2 linked regions of the Homo sapiens genome follow. The protein of the gene in region 2 interacts with the protein of the main gene of each other region in a pairwise test. Each region holds a gene or a part of one and is shown on either strand. Other genes may lie near its edges.

Region 1 (3,836 bases), on a different chromosome or scaffold from region 2:
TATTCAGAAGCCTCAAAAACAAGAATTTGCATCCACTCAAATTTTTCAATTAGAAAATAGCACACGGATTTCAGTTTACAATAAATCCTTTAGAGAGTACAATAAAAAGTACTATCAAGAATATGAAGATATTAGGAATGATTTTACTCAAGATCATGCAAAATAGTTGTAGTCAGAAAAAACTTGATTAATTTTTAATTTTAAGCTAGATGGTCCTGTGTCATTGTGCTCCTTTATGACTGACTAAATTTTGAAAACATAAATGCAGACAAATTTAAGAGGAAATAAATCTCCTAGTAGTGAGTAATATCCTATTCAGAAGCACTGGAAGTTCACATTAATCACAAGAAACTTTTCTACAAAACAGCTCAGGACATAGGTTGAAAAGCAGACTAAAATATAAATTTGATAATATAAATCAGGCCCTTAAAAGAGACAGTAATTTATTGATGTTTGGCTGTCTAAGACCACCATCGTAAGACAAATTATTAAAAGTGAATATTAATACCTCATTTCTTATACTCCTCTTTGAGGATTTTATACCTGAAAATGAAGGTGTTATCCATCACAAATGATCAAAGGGCAATTTTTTTCCTCAGTTCAGAAAGCGGATCTGACTGAGTTGTCCTGGGTAAGAGGCAAGGACCTTCCTCACTGTGCTTAGGGAAATTGAGGCTTCCTTTGCAACATGGATATTCTAATCCGGAATGCTATTTTAACAGTTTGTATACTGCTTCTGAAAAGAAAATTGATAATATAGAATCGTCAACACAGAGTCGTTCATTATTTCAAACAAAATATCACAGCTTTTTAAGTCTTTATTGCTACCGAAGTTATTCAACACATGCACAAAAATGAGGAAGGTTGAGTGGTATCTTATAAAAAATTTTTAAATTTATATTGAAAACACAAACCAATAAGCCACTAGACCAAATGCTACCCAACATGTAAAATTCTATTCTTAACATATTCTCATATTTTGTTCATTTTTATTTTAATGCTTTCTCTCTCTCAAAGGTAAATTTTCTGGCATATACTTATCCCAAGCTAGCAAAGGCCAGAACTCCTGAAGGACTAATTGTATTCATTCATTTTCTTGGCCCAGCGTGAAGCTGGTAGCTTGCTTGGTTCATAGCAACAGGGGAGAAAAGGAGGCGCCCATCTTTATGTCCTTATCCAACAGGAAACCAGGCCAGTGGACAGAATGCAGTGAAATGCCTGTTCAGAAGGTATTCTGCAAGATTAAATGGCAAGAAATTCACAAGGTTAATTTGCACCCAAGTAACTAAGTGTTCCCTCCAAACCTGATCCTCAGCCTTCAAAGGTGGAAGCTTCTGAAGCTACTGTCAGCCACAACACACATGACAACAAGATATTAGTTCAGTGAGCTGATGGTTTAGTTATTACCACTAAAATCACCTAACAGAGAGTAATAAACTACTGAAGACTCTGATACTTTTAATCACTAGTAGTTTACTGACCTTGGTCTTACCCTGAAAATGCCAAATTAGACTGTATAGCCAAATCTGCCTCAAATAGCTCTAATGTTCCTATCATCTAAAAATCAGACAGTTGAGTATTTCTGATAGTTTATTGTGAATATATAAAATAATGAATCAAATAGGTAGAACATATCTTAGTAGCTAACTCTGCTTTTCAAAATTCTATGGAAAACTCACCAAAAAACAGGAATCATACTTCTCTTTTACAAATTTCTAGATTAAAAAGGGGGGAGGGTCAATTCACGTCTCTTATAAACATATAAGCATAAAAACATGGGTTATAAACCTCAATCATACTGCCTTATTTTTAGCCTGGTACTTGCATAAATTCTGATCTAAATTTCAGAGTAACAAAATTACTACCAATACATCTAATAATGTGATACGTTACACTGAGGCTTAAAGTTAATGCCTTTTACTTGAAAAACATTTATGTTTCTAACATACAAAATATTACTTAAAATATTTAAAATTTCAAAAGTAAGGACAATCTAAGTTTTGTGATGAAACTCATTCAAGACCAAGATAAACTTTCAATCTTTACTCACAACAAATTCTTAGATTTAAACCATGCTGATTTCATTTACTTGTCAGTGAAAAGGTCACAGTGCCGGCATACTGGTATACATATGTCAAAATGATGATGGCTCAGATTTTTTTTAAATGGAGCAACTAAATTTTGAAAGAAGAAAAATACTCAAGGGAATATGATTAGGAAAAAAAAAATGTTACTACTTCTCTCTTCTTAGCCACATACATTTGACCTGTACTGCCAGAGGACTTGGGAGTGTTGACCTAGAATTCACATTACTTTCACAACTCCAAGATTACGTGTTAACAAAACTAAAAGGTGTCAATTACCTGCTACTCTAATATGAAATGTTTAATATACAAGTCCCTACAAGAATTGAAAAAGTCCAAAGAAAACATGATTAGGTTAAAGTTTAGTAAATCCTTCATGACTTACACAGATATTTTCCTCTTAAGAGTATAACCTTTTAAATTGATGATACTCAAACCTTAACAGAAGCAAAGCACCAGGTTGAGGACGACTGGTATTCCTAAAAGTGTGTTGGTCATATTTGCTGCTGTATTATTTGACTATTGCATCAATAATGCCAACCAGTAGGAGATATGTTTAATTACCCTAATATCATTTCAGCAAATAGTCAAAATAATCCAAGAAGAACTTAGAATACGCACATGATGTTTAAAAGTATATTCTTATTAGAAGCACCAAACTGCTTATGGCATACTTCAGATGAAGAGGCATGTTCTTAGTATTATGACTCTCTTTATAAGCATAGCTACTAAAGGAGAATGTAAATAAACTTTTATTACTGGAAGTCTTTTTAACTTTATTTAAAAGCTTTTTACATTCTTAAAGAAATTAAGGACAAATAGTTATATTCTTCTTGATGTGGATTTTCATTACTCAAAGTTACTTGGTGACATTCCAGTTTAGAATTCAGAATAATATTAAAAGGATGATTTGATTATTTACACTTTTAGGTAAAACTTATACAAGTTTTCAAATTTTGGAAATATAGAAGATCTATTTAGGCAAATGTTATCATATATTTCTATTCAAACTGATAGTTCTGAGTGGCTATTTCACAAATTTGTGCCAATTCAACACATAAAAAAATCAGTTTGGTCCCCTATCCAATAAATACTACCAACTAAAAGTTATCAGCATTTGAAAACTCAGTATCCACTTCTCAGAAGTGAATACCTGGGTACATAGATTGTAACAGTAAAACTATTCTGACAGCAAATAAATTTAATATTTTTTCCCGTGAAACTACATCTATAGATGCTCATTTATCAATGGAGAGGCAGTAATGAAACTCCATGTAGAAGATAAACTCCTACCAGATACACAAGTGACACAAGTTACACAGTAAGATACTGTACTTAATCCCTGTGATCAAGATACATTTAATTCTGATTTTACCTAAACATAATTTCAAATTGAATCTGTTAGTATAAGCTAAAGTAGATTTACTTCGTTTAGACACAGTGTACATTATCATCAGTTTAACGTGCCCACTGAACATATTATATTCTGAGGGAAAAATAAAAAAAATTATTTAAGTTGCAATTAAAGTCCTCTATTCTTTTTTCAAAAGATTGAAGTCTTACTAGTTTAGCAAAATTTTAACAGATAGGTTCTATATAAAGACACAAAGCATGGCTAGCTTACTTTATGAAATAACATACAGGAAAAGGAATTGCACAACAGTGAATTTATAAAATTTACTAAACCCGTGGAAATTTTCTGAAATATTTTCTTACTATTGTTTGTGGAAAACTGTTAGTTTTTATTTTTAA
Region 2 (3,156 bases):
CATAAAAATATAACATAAACTCATATGCTTGGAAAGTTTTTGTTTGTTTGTTTGTTTGTTTGTTTGTTTGTTTGTTTTGAGATGGAGTCTCACACTGTCATCCGGGCTGGAGTGCAGTGGCACAATCTTGGCTCACTGCAACCTCCGCCTCCAGGGTTCAAGCGATTCTCCCGCCTCAGCCTCCCGAGTAGCTGGGATTACAGGCACCCACTACCATGCCCGGCTAATTTTTTTGTATTTTTGGTAGAGACAAGGTTTCACTATGTTGGCCAGGCTGGTCTCGAACTCCTGACCTTGTGATCTGCCCTCCTCGGCTTCCCAAAGTGCTAGGATTACAGGCATGAGCCACTGCGCCCAGCCATATACTTGGAAATTTTAAAGCACATTAAAAATCTCATGGATCAAAAAATAAATCATAAAGAAAACTAGAAAATATTTATAACCAAACAAGGAAAATGCAACATTTTAAAACTTGTGAGATTCAGCCAAAGTGGTAATTAAAGAATGTCTAGTCTTAAGTGCTTATTTTAAGAAAAAAAGAAAGTTAGAAAATCAATAAGCTAGGTATTCTATTTAAGAAGTTAGGAAAATAACAATGAGATAGAAGCAAGGAGAACAGTAGATAAATAATAAGTGCAGAAATGCATAAAACATAAATCATTCTCAATCAGGATTAGCTCATAATACTCTCAGAATTAAAAAGTGGAAAGATTATTTCTGGAAAGGGTAAGAGAAGGCCAGTCATATACATACCTATATATATTTTCTATTTTAACTCCTTAAATGAATTTTACAGAAAGAATTAGAGGACCATTGCTTTTTAAATGACATTTATTTTTTCTAATAATTCAAGTACATAACACATTTTCAAAGGGAAATTTGAAAATACTGAACAATGTAAAGAAAAGAGATAGAACTTATAGTCCTATCATTAGGAGATAATTATTAAGTATTAACTTGTGCGTACTTATGCTTTCTTTTTTCAGCCTATAGCATCTGGTCTCCCATCCAAGTAATAACCTGGATCAATCCTGCTTAAGTTTCCAATATTAGGCATTTTCAGGGTGTTGTGACCACAGATGATGTAACTATTAACTTTTAAATATTTTTCTGGTCTTTACATATCTCAAGGTTTATACATGTCTACATGTAATTATATGGTTACTTAATTAAAAATTTGGGCTCAAACTGCATACATATATTTGGTTTTTGAGTTTTTTTTCCTTTTTACTTTGAATTCACGAGGATATAAAACACATATTCAGCTTTTTTTGTATTCAGCTTTTTTTTACTTAAAATTGCATGATTAGCATATACTCTTCAAATATAGAATATTTGGTGGCTGTGTTAAAATTTAATTTTCCTGATAGAGGTATCATGCTGCATTTGGCTGTACCCCTGATGTGTCCAATGCTGTGGTGGAGTCATTCAGCAAACATCTATTAACAGTCCATTCAACGTACGGTGCCATGCTGAATCTAAACAAGAGATAGACAGTCTGAAAGTATATAACAAACTGATGAAGTGGACCTTCCAGAAGTCTGTTTACAAGAGGGCTGAGGAGACTTTGAGAGAATTTTTAACAAGATGGTCCTAGATATGACTAGCTTATGGACTTGATAGAGAAATCCTGGGCTGTCAGAGGGGAGAGGTCACTCTGAGTACAACATGGTGTCTGTAGCTTGGGTTTGCCTCTTGGTCCAAGTCCTTCAGACCTCATATTTAAGTTCTTTGGAAAGTAGAGTGTTATTGAATGAAGCTCTGTAAAACTCTGGAGCCTAAGCATCTTTGTCTTAGCATCCCTCCAACCCAACATCTAGAAAAGGGAGACTTCATTTGGATCGTTTTAGTTGCAATAAACAGAGCTGCACTGATTTAGTCGGGGGTTTACTGAAATGATCAGCACAGTGACAAAGAAGAAAGACTATCTAGGAATCCAAGAACAGAAACCAGGCCTAGGGTACACTGTTCATTGTGGGCAAAGGCAGTTTTAGGAGCTTTTGGAGTAGAAGTTCATGTATCTTCCTTTTAATATGATACCATTATTAACATGAACCAGATACTCTCTGAATGTTGGCTTCCTTCTTCATCCTTTAATCATTTTTTGATGGTAATGGTCCGGTTGCTTCATTCTTGGCTTCCTAGTTCAAATTCTTATGCTTGAATAACCACCAGTCTTGTTTGGACAGTGTTTTACTCCAGGCTAAGTCAGAGGCCATTAGCAAGACAATAGGCTGCCCATGACTCTGGGGCCTGCCCCAGTTCAGTCAGCTGGGCCCAGAGCATGAAGGTCATGCGGTGTATAACATGGCTTGCTTTCAAGATGCTTGTTTCAGCAAAGGCTGTGAACAAGGCTTAAAGGGGGCTGTTGGCACAGCAGGCATCAAGGAGAAAGATATTCTCTTCCGTATCCCCCCAGCCTACTCCCTGGCTTTGGCACAGAGCAGGTGTTGACAGACCATTGTTGACAGTGTCCATGGAGGAGACAAATGGGGAAATGGCAGAAGTGTTGAGGCCCAGTGCACCTGTGATGGAAGCAGTGCTCAGCAGGGTAACTACAGGAAGCAGAAAACCTGGTATGAGCATTCAACACTGAGTGCCTACTGGCTTCACTGTGTGCTGGGTCCTATGCATGGTGGGAAATATATAAGATGTGGCTACTGTCCCCGAGGAAGACATGGCATGTATAGGTGGAAAATTTGTAAGTGTTCTACTTTTTAATTACTTTAAAAATAAATATAGGTACTGGTAACTCCCCCTGACACAGGTATTGACTGGTCAGTGGTCATTTTCTCTTGCCCATTGAGCATGTTCCCTAGCTGCTCACTTATTTTAAGGCTACCTCTTCTAGTCCATCACACTCACCCTCAGGAGTCAGAAAGGAAGAGCAAGAGTTTAGATTGTATAAGTTTATATAAAACTCTTTTTGGCTCATCTATATCACTACTTTCCTCATTGAATGTTGATGGAAGTGTCATTTCATGATGTTTGCAAATAATGTTGAGGAATGTGGAAAGAGCATATGCCTTAAAGTTTGGAAAAATAAAAAAATTTTAATAGTGAAAATATGAGTTTAGAAAATATTTATAGTAAAACATATTCAATAAAGAAATCTTGGAAAATATAGAAAAGTGGGAAGAAGGGTCATCAATGCCC

What was found.
Region 1: the proteins of TM4SF18 (region 2) and EFNA5 interact in binary tests that used the Homo sapiens proteins (3 or more experiments, as listed by UniProt).

Annotation. Positions count from the first base shown.
Region 1 is NC_000005.10:107,664,102-107,667,937, forward strand, and holds part of EFNA5 (ephrin-A5 isoform 1 precursor), read right to left. Parts: intron 1-3,836. UniProt on the Homo sapiens protein: Cell surface GPI-bound ligand for Eph receptors, a family of receptor tyrosine kinases which are crucial for migration, repulsion and adhesion during neuronal, vascular and epithelial development.
Region 2 is NC_000003.12:149,317,685-149,320,840, forward strand, and holds the end of TM4SF18 (transmembrane 4 L6 family member 18), read right to left. Parts: 3' UTR 814-3,156; downstream 1-813.